Linked DNA regions of Homo sapiens: region 2 is linked to region 1. Evidence: fine-mapped expression QTL. Tissue or cell type: fibroblasts. Region 1 holds a variant in brackets; the other region holds the start of a gene. All regions are shown on one strand. Distances are from middle to middle.

What was found. PIP is the estimated chance that this variant, and not a neighbour inherited with it, causes the effect.
Region 2: it holds the start of THEM4, and the variant in region 1 is fine-mapped to the expression of THEM4 in fibroblasts (GTEx, PIP above 0.99). The same link has a PIP of 0.9 or more in esophagus muscle and tibial artery.

The regions. Positions count from the first base shown.
Region 1 is chr1:151,871,212-151,876,359 of GRCh38, reverse strand. It overlaps THEM4 (thioesterase superfamily member 4), which reads left to right. Exons shown (of 6, transcript NM_053055.5): 6 at 1,432-5,148. The coding sequence ends at 1,472. Among named protein-coding and RNA genes, the nearest start is that of THEM5, 20 kb to the right of the region's middle. The variant C/G (reference allele first, on the strand shown) is at 3,186.
Region 2 is chr1:151,906,843-151,911,990 of GRCh38, reverse strand. THEM4 (thioesterase superfamily member 4) reads left to right here and starts at 2,480. Exons shown (of 6, transcript NM_053055.5): 1 at 2,480-2,631. The coding sequence starts at 2,533. RefSeq lists enhancers at 1,508-2,095, 2,084-2,203 and a silencer at 2,444-2,753.

The DNA of each region.
Region 1 (5,148 bases):
GGGTTCCAGTGATTGTGTCACTCATGCAACATTATTTGCAATAGCAAGAAAAATGGCAAAACGTAGCAAACATAGCTATCCATCAATAGGAGACTGGTTAAAGAACTACAGCTCACCTATGAACTATATTGTATGTGTGTGCCATTAAAAAATGGTGAAATATTGTGATACCATAAATAAGAAAAATATGTCTATATTTATGTGTGTGTAGACTGTCTCAGGAAAGTCACACACATGACCTGTTACTTCCCTGGAGTACTGAGGTTCATCCATGTTGTTGGCTGTGTTCACTTGTTTGTACCACTGTGTAATACTCCATATGTGACTGTCCCACAATGAATGTCTCTCTTCCAGTGACAGGCCTCTGACTATTACAAATGGGGCTGCTATAAACATTCTTGTTCATGTCTCCTGGTGGTGTGCATGGGCAAGAGCTTGGCATATACTTAGGAACAGAATTTCTGGGTGGTAGAGTATTGTGAGTATTCAGCTTTACAGAGGAATGCAAAATTGTTTTCTAAGCCTGTACCAAATTAAACTCCCACCAGCAATATATGAGATTCTTTAGATTCCCATCTTCTCTAGCAATTAGTGAAGTCAGACTTCATGATTTTTGCCAGTCAAATGACTATAAAATGACTTCTCGGTGTGATCTTGATTTGCATTTCTCTGATTACCTGTGTGGTTGAGTGTCTCTTCATATGTTTATTGACCATATTTTTTCCCATTCTGTGAAATTTTTGTTTGTTCAGCTTTTTTTCCATTTGTTCTCATTTTCTTACTGATTTATAGATGTTCTTTATATATTTTCTATTAGAACAATTTTTTGTTGGATATATAAGTTGCACATACCTCCTTACAGTGTGTAAGTTGTCTTTTATTTGCTTTAAGGTATCTTCTTTATGAACAGAAATTTTTAATGTCAATTTAGTTGCATTTATTACATTTTTCCCTTTATGGCTAATTTTTTTGTATCTTGTTTAAGAAATTTATTTTTCCTCTTAAGTATGAAGCATTTGCAGGAATGATGGATTTAAGGAGCAGGTGGAAGATAATAACTTAAATCCACAGTCAATTTAAGAACTCCATTCCAGGCTGTGGTTTGTACTTCCTGTCTCACTAAACCTTTCAATATCATAAAGGTGCCAGATGGCTCACTTGTAATTTTAGTTCTTTTCATTTCTAATGGAAGTAGTGAGGAACCATGAAATGGCCAAGTGGTGAGGACCTGGTTACCCAGGGAGAAGTAATACAGTATTGTGATAGTCAAAAGCTGATTCTTAATTTGGCTGAAAAATGAGAGTGGACAGATAGACTGAAGCTACAAATGTGAATCAAATCCTTCTTTTGTATATGTCTTTCTATTTAGAGTAGTCCATCAAATTGAAGTCAGTTGACATATAATCATCTGCTGTTATTTTGTTTGTTTAGGCTTATTTATAAAGCTGAATCCTGCTAAAAGTCTGACATAAAGAGCTGCTGGTGAACTCCATCTCATTCTCGCCCCTCCAGAAGAAGCAGTTGTCCCCCAAATACTCTGCTCCCTCACTGCTGAATCCCTGTAGGGAGAAGCCTGCCAACAGTGACCTTCCGAAACAGCCTTCTGAATACAAAGAGGATTCAGTTTCCATCTTCTCAACTTTTTAACACAGAAATACTTCCTGCGAGCATATCGACAACTCTCGGGCCAGGCGCTGTGGCTCACACCTATAATCCCAGCACTTTAGGAGGCCGAGGCAGGCGGATTGCCTGAGCTCAGGAGTTCAAGATCAGTCTGGGCAACACGATGAAACTCCGTCTCTACTAAAATACAAAAAATTATCCAGGCATGGTGGCGTACGCCTGTAGTCCCAGCTACTCAGGAGGCTGAGGCAGGAGAATTGCTTGAACCCAGGAGGAAGAGGTTGCAGTGAGCCAAGATCATGCCACATCACTCCAACCTGGGCAACAGAACAAGAACCCATCTCAAACAAACAAACAAACAAAAAAAAAAAACTCTTGTCTCCTTAGGATATGTTACCTGCTCCACTGCAGACTAGAGAAATAAATGTGTATTGAACCTTTTACTGCAAACTTGAAAATGCTAGAAAACCAAGCATGAAGAATAAATACATGGTGGGAAACACACAGGCATGTGCATATGCATATACATTGTAAGTTAGTAAGTTAGAAAGCTAGCTTTGTTGTATCTGAACACATGAATCTTTTTTGGTCAGTGTAGGAAGCACAGCCAGATCCTATAGGAATGAATACCTCAAATCTGTTGTCTGAGATTCTAGAGATTAAACCACTGTGCCATTTTTAACCCAGGCTGTACTGTTGTTTCTTACCAACAGCATAGGTTTTCATCACTGGAAGGAGCCTGTGTTCATTTCCTAGGGCTGCTGTAGCAAAGTAGTACAAACTGGATTGTTTAAACCAACAAAAACTCATTGTCTCTCAGTTCTGGAGGCCAGAAGTTCAAAATCAAGGTGTTGACCAAGGCCATTCTCCTGAAAGTGCTAGGGAAGGAGCTGTCCACGCCTCCCTCCTGGCTTCTGGGAGCCTCAGGTGTTCCTTGGCTTCTAGATGCATCATTCCAGTCCTCCATCTTCACATGGCATTCCCTCTGTGTGTCTCCACAGTGTCTTCCCTCTGTGCAGATCTATCTCTGTGTCCAAGTCTCCTCTTTTTATAAGGAAACCAGTCATAATGGACCCACCTGAATGACCTCATTTTAACTTGATTACCTCTGTAAAAAATGTATTTCCAAATAAAGTGACCTTATGAGGTATTGGAGATTAGGACCACAACATACCTTTTTTGGGAGGACACAATTCAACCTGTAAAAGAGCCTCAACAAAACTAAAAAATGAACGGAGAGTTGAAGGGGGCCAGCCCCTCCACACCTGTGGGTGTTTCTCATCAGGTGGGATGAGAGACTGAGAAAAGAAATAAGGCACAGAGACAAAGTATAAAGAAAGAACCCTGGGCCCAGGGGACCGGTGCTCAGCATACAGAGGACCCGCACCGGCCCCAGTCTCAGCTCTCTCAGTATTTATTGATTACTGTTTTCACTATCTCGGCAAGGGGAATGCAGCAGGAGAACAGGGTGATAGTGGGGAGAAGGTCAGCAGGAAAATCTGTGAGCAAAGGAATCTGTGTTACAAATAAGTTCAAGGGAAGGTACTATGCCCAGATGTGTA[C/G]GTAGGCCAGATTTATGCTTCTCTCCACCCAAACATCTCAGTGTAGCAAAGAGTAACAGCAGCATTGCCGCCAGCGTATCTTGGCTCCAGCCACAGGGTGGTTTTCTCCTATCTCAGAATGGAACGAACATAGGATCGGGTTTTACACCAAGACATGCTGTTCCCAGGGGCATGCAGGAGACAGAGGCCTTCCTCATCTCAACCACAAGAGGCCTTCCTCTTTTACTAATCCCCCTCAGCACAGACCCTTTGCGGGTGTCGGGCTGGGGGATGGTCAGGTCTTTCCCTTCCCGGGAGGCCATATCTCAGGCTGTCTCAGTGGGGGGAAACCTTGGACAATACCCAGGCTTTCTTGGGCAGAGGTCCCTGCGGCTTTCCACAGTGCATTTTGCCCCTGGTTAATTGAGAATGGAGAATGGCGATGACTTTTACCAAGCATACTGCCTGTAAACATACTGTTAATGAGGCACGTCCTGCACAGTCCTAGATCCCTTAAACCTTGATTCCATACAGCACATGTTTCTGTAAGCACAGGGTTGGGGCTAAAGTTACAGATTAACAGCATCTCAAGGCAAAGCAATTTTCTTAGAACAGATCAAAATGGAATTTCTCATGTCTTCCTTTCTACATAGACACAGTAACAGTCTGATCTCTCTTTTCCCTACAGAGACTAATGTTCTGGAAAATATATTCTGCTTCCTAGTGCAGGCAATAGATTATTTGGGCTTCCATTTCTTTCCTTTCTTTCCCCATATTAGAAATTTAAGCTGAACCATATGAAATCACTATTTCGAAGAACAGAATGGTCAAATATTGACAATTTCCTATGGTTCAACCTAATAACTTAGGGACAGCCTTGTGGTACCCTACCCAGTCATCCTTCCACAGCCAAAAGATCAGCTGGAGCCCTCCATTGCCAGAGCTGACTGACCTGGGATGGCCAAGCCAGAGGAAGACCCACATCCTGGAAGCCCTGTCTCTAGTGCCCAACTCCAGTTCTCAAGTTGCAAGGGCCCAGCAGACATGGGGGCACTGCAGGGGTGAAGCTGGCAGTTCCTTCTCCCAGAAATTCTGAGAGAGCCTGGGAAAGTGCCCCAGGAGATGGCTGGGCTCACAGCTCTACAAGTTACAGGTCTGGCAATGGCCACCCTCTATTCCCAGTCTTCCAACAAATCCTGAAACTTAAGAGAGTGGACTCTTACAATAATTATATTTCACATGTTAAAAAATATGACTCCGAAGGAATAAGCCAGCGCTGCTCATTTAGCTAGTTTCACTTAACTAGTTGGGAGGAAGTTTAGACAATGAAGGTACTGTACTCTCATCGTTAGATTTCTCTGGCAGGCTTGCAGAACTGCTATGGCACACCAGACCTCCAGCCAAGTGAAAGAACCTAACTGAAAGAGTGCCAAATGACCAGGTTTTCTTCATGTTAAGTATGCCTGCCTCCCTTCGTATCCACTTTTTTCCCTTTACAGTTTCATTTCTTACACTGGTTTGCTCACATCCAGGTTAGATGCTGCACAAGATCAACTAAGGAAAAAGCTCAGTCACTGTTAACATAGGGTTCCCCATAGCCAGTGAGGGAAAAATGGCTTCCCTGCTTTGCAGCAGACTATTCCTAGCCTTCACCATGCCCTGGCACTCTTGCTTTCCTCAGGTTGTATTTTGACAAGTATGTAAGATAACAAAAGGTGGCAGAACAGGTAGAAAGAAGGAGAGAGATGCTATCAGAATTGCCAGCTCCACTCCATCACTGGCTTGCTGTGTGACCTAATGGAACTATTCCTCATTTCCTGTTTCCTTCTTTTTCCTTTCTTTTTTCTTTTTCTTTTTTTTTTTTTTTTTTCAAGACAGGGTCTGGCTCTGTCGCCTGGGCTGGAATGCAGAGACACAATCTCAGCTCAATGCAACCTCCACCTCCCAGGTTCAAGCGATTCTCCTGCCTCAGCCTCCCAAGTAG
Region 2 (5,148 bases), 36 kb before region 1:
GCCTGGCTGGTCTCAAACTCCTGACCTCAGGTGATCCACCCACCTCAGCCTCCCAAAGTGCTGGAATTACAGGTATGAGCCACGGTGCCCATCCTATGGCAACTACACCTCAATAAAGCTGTCTACAAAATTAAAGAATGGTGAGAAGACTATTAAGTTTCATACCATTGGCTTATTCGAAGCCTAGTTCTATCAAGATTGAACATTTGTTCCTTGCCTAAACCATACAAGCTTCAAACTCCTTCACTTCCATAGCCTATCAATCCTATTTCTAGACTGTAACCTGCCCTTCCTCTTCCAAATCTGACCAGACATTTTATATGTGCTGTCAACACGAATATCCCAGAGTAAGCCATGCAAGAGTGTGGATGACTTAACTAAATGCACTGCCGCTACTTGAAAAATTTAGAGTTAAAATTTAATGAAGTTTAAACTCAGTGTAACTGACCTCTAATTGCCCTAAGTCTAAGGTCTTTTAAGAAGCTGATAGGTGCCGAGTGCAGTGGCTCATGCTGGTAATCCCAGCACTTTGGGAGGCAGGCAGATCACTTGAGGTCAGGAGTTCAAGACCAGCCTGGCCAACAGGGTGAAACCCCGTCTCTACCAAAAATATAAAAATTAGCCAGATGTGGTGGCACGCGCCTGTAATCCCACCTACTCGGGAGGTTGAGGCAGGGAGAATCGCTTGAACCCTGGAGGCAGAGGTTGCAGTGAGCCAAGATCATGCCACTGCACTTCCAGCCTGGGCAACAGAGTGAGACTCCATCTCAAAAAAACAAAAGGAAGCTGTTAGGTGAGCTATTGGTACATTAATCATATAGACAATCTTAGCAGGGTTGAAGTCTATAGGTATTGATTGATTTGACTACACTGTAAATTGTAAATAGATGCAATTTTAAGTTACCTGAATAAACTTTTCTATTCATTAACAGTAGTCATCTCAATTTTAGAGATTTACGTTATGCTCGTGCCTCCATCTGCACGCACAACATGGGAAGACAACAGACACCAAAGATACTTTGGATTCTTGCTGCTAAGTAAGTATTCAAGCACTACGTGCACGTTGTTACAATTAATAAGGCAATCTGACCCCATCCCTGCCACCAGGAAACTGCAATACTATTAATATATTAAAAAGGAAGACAACTGAGATAAAGGGAATGTGGGAGGTTGGGGGGGGTGCTTAGGAGATATCAGAATACAACCTCTTAGAATTACAGAATCTCAACAACCATCCTTTATGCCTGATCTTCGGTTCAGTAGCTCTAGGATTCCAAGGGGCCCCTCCTAACTGCATTGCCTTCTCTCCCCAATTCCCTTTCTCTCAGAATGTTACACCTTCCCCCAGTTAATAGTGTAGGCTTAAAATGTATCTAGGTGTTCTTACCTACTGACAAACTGCTGGAGTTGTTCATGGGAAAGGAATCAAGGCAAAATATCTAATGCATTCAGGTCATTCGAGTTTTCTTTTTAATTTATTGCTTTTTTGAGATGGGGCATCAGTATGTTGCCCAGGCTGAAGTGCAATAGCAGTATCTCTGCGAGACTCTGTCTCAAAAAAAACCCATTAGAGTCTTCACCTTAGGATGGACTAGGGCTATGGCATACTGGTAAGCATTTAAAAATAAAGGGGTATGATGGCCCGGATTTGCATTATCTGAGTAATGGGAATACTCCAACCCAGTCCGATTTCAAGGTCCCAGTGAGGTTACTGAATTCGAAGCTCAGAAGGTATGCGCCTAGTATTCCCACCATACGAATACAAGCGAGGTAAGTAACCTCAAAAGCATCGATAACAGTAAAATAGTTACAATACCTGTTACGCCTTTAGTATCCATTACCTTCGTTTAATTTAACTGTCAGTTTACATAACAAAAGAGTCTTTTAAGGCGTAAGCGCGCTCCTGGGGAGGGTATGGGGCTGTTGGCAGGGAAAGCAGCTTTTCGATCGTATAAATGCTCTTTGTGCCCAGACTGCCCTCTATAAATCAGCACTATCAACCCTGTCCAGAGACTTGCCCATGACCTCCAAGAAAACACTTTATTCATACTACTCCTAGCGTGCGCTCCTACCCGCCCCAGGGACTTCAGTCTTCCGGGGGAGGGATAACTACTTGGGGACACGGAGCACTGCGTACGCCCTGGGTCATGTGGGAAGGATGACCGCAAAGCCTCCAGTCGGCGCGCGGGTTCCGGGGCTGAGGGGCTGAGGGGCCCAAGGCGATAACCGGGATCCGCTCCGGCCGCGCTCCTCTTGCCTTTGAGAAGCCCCGGAAGTGGCCCGGCTGTTGGCCGCAGCGGGAGGTCTTCGGAAAGAAAAGGCCGGAACCAGAAGATAGACTCAACAGCGATGCCCTACCCGGACCCCGCCGGCCTCACACCCCGGCCAGCCAGCCGCCAGTAGTGCGCACCGCCTCCTCCCCAAGCCCCGCCCTGCGTCCACCCCAGGGGTTAACTCGCACGCGCGCTCTTGTGGCGGAGGTAGAGTGCGCCGTCCAGGGCTAGAGCAAGCGCGGCCCCGCGGCCCGGAGCCATGCTGAGGAGCTGCGCCGCGCGCCTCCGCACGCTGGGGGCTCTGTGCCTGCCGCCAGTAGGCCGGCGCCTGCCGGGAAGCGAGCCGCGACCCGAGCTGGTGAGTCTGGGCACCCTCGGGCATGGGGCGGGAGCAGGACTCAGAAACACGCCTGCGGTAACAGAGCCTTCGATTGTTATCCATACCCCAACCAGCCAATCTCAGAATAAAAGCTCACCTGGGCACCACAGGGCAGCATAAGCAACAGGGGCCTAGGAATACAGTCCTGAGATTCAAACCGTTAGAAAAGGGATGGAAAGGTGACCCCGTTTTTTTGTTTTTTAAGAGACAGGGTCGGCAGGGCGCTACCTGAACTGCATAATTTAGTCTGTCTATTTATATTTTGACAACATCTGTATTTTACCAATAATATTTGAGGCTGTTTTTATTTTTCAAAGATTAAAGTGACGTGAACTAAAAGATACCACAGCTTTTATCTTCCCTTTAAAAAAATATTTGATCCAAACGCTTATCTTCCTTTAGGTCAATTAATTAGAGATCTTTTTATAGACATCACACACAACACATATATAACTACACAGACAGGCAGAAGAAAACCCAGTTGCCATAAGATCTTTCATCACAGGGAGAGGGATCTATCTGCTTTTAATTCCTGGGGTTCCATGAGGAAAACAGAGATCGCCCCTCTTATGCAGGCATTAAAAGTGGCAAGGCAAAATGGAGAAAAATAACTCAGTCGACCGCAAAGAAACACTTTTTCCAGCAAAATAAGGTCCAAGAAAAGGAAAACATAAAGGCCTTATAAATATAATTACAACTTAGATATCTACTTTTAATTAAGCTGAGCACTCCTTAAGAAAATTCTTTTAACACCCTTATTATCTAACTTTAGCTCCACCAAGCGGCCAATATTTCTGGCTTTCAAACTTTACTTAAAGGCTCAGAGAAAGGAAAATCCAAGGTGGTTGGTGGAGGGCAGGGGAATCGACAAATAGCGAAAGGGCATACAGATACCAAACCAGAAAGGACTCATTCCCTAAGCCAGGATGAATCTGGGCCATGCCGGGCTAAACGAAGCTATGCAATGGGGTTACAGGCCACGCCCCCAAGGACGTAAAACAAGATGGAGGCCTGCAGCGAAGTTTGCTGTGGAGCATACAGAAAGACATGCAAAACACACAGATTGGCTACAGCTTACGACTTACCTCACAAATCCTTTCGCACAAAACTTTACAGAAAATATAAACGGTAATCCTCATCATTCCCAAAAGAGCAAAACGTCTTCCAAAAGGAAAAGAAAAACCTCCTTTAAAAGTATACTGCTGATGGGTTGGAGAGGAGATAAGGATGCCTGGGGGAAGAACCTCTTATTCCTATGCAAATGGTTCCTCCACCAGAGAGAGGAGCTTAATTGCTGTGGGACAGAGCTAGACTCCCTGGAATGGGGAGGGGGAGACTGCAGGCACCTGGTAGGGAACGCCAGCCAGCCATGCCGGCGCCTTGGAGCCTGGGCAGTGGCTGTGGCTCATTTATGCCCTGTGTGGCTACTGGACACCACACACACATGCTGCAGACACCACCATGCACCCCAGCCAGTAAAGAAGTGGGGCCAGGGAGCTACCCCACCCAACTGTCTTGTGAGTGCACTGGTGACCATTGGGGTGGGTGTGGACCACCTCCAGTATCGTAAAAAGAAAAATAGGTGCCGTTGCTGTCCCCCCAAAAAGAAGAGGAATGCCATAAGACCAAAAGGCTCAGAAATGAAAGTGAGAGGTTTTGAGTCCCCATTTCACTCATCCTTCTGTTGCAGGAATGAAGGAGGACTGGAGAGGCCATGGGGTGAGACAGGAGAACTTTATTGAGTGCACTCAGACCCAGCGGACTAACATCCAAAAGCTGGGCCCAGAACAAAGACAGCACTTGACTTTAATACACACTTTTAAAAGGGGGTGGGCTAGCTTGAAACAAGCTTACAGTGGCGTGAAGCATAGTGGCGTGAAAGCAAGGATACAGAGGCAGCACAAAGGCAATTAATTCATCAAATTGTGACAGGTGCATAATTCAGGATTACATACTGTGTCGGAATTGATGGGTTCTTGGTCTCACTGACTTCAAGAAAGAAGCCACGGACCCTCGTGGTGAGTGTTATAGTTCTTAAAGGCGGCATGTCCGGCGTTTGTTCCTTCTGATGTTCGGATGTGTTCAGAGTTTCTTCCTTCTGGTGGGTTCATGGTCTTGCTGGCTCAAGAGTGAAATTGCGGACCTTCGTGGTGAGTGTTATAGCTCTTAAGGCAGCACGTCTGGAGTTGTTCGTTCCTCCCGGTGGGTTTGTGGTCTCGTTGGCTTCAGGAGTGAAGCTGCAGACCTTCGCGGTGAGTGTTACAGCTCATAAAGGCAGTGTGGACCCAAAGAGTGAGCAGCAGCAAGATTTATTGCAAAGAGCGAAAGAACAAAGCTTCCACAGTGTGGAAGGGGACCCGAGCGGGTTGCCACTGCTGGCTTGGGCAGCCTGCTTTTATTCTCTTATCTGGCCCCACCCACATCCTGCTGATTGGTAGAGCCAAGTGGTCTGTTTTGACAGGGCCCTGATTGGTGCATTTACAATCCCTGAGCTAG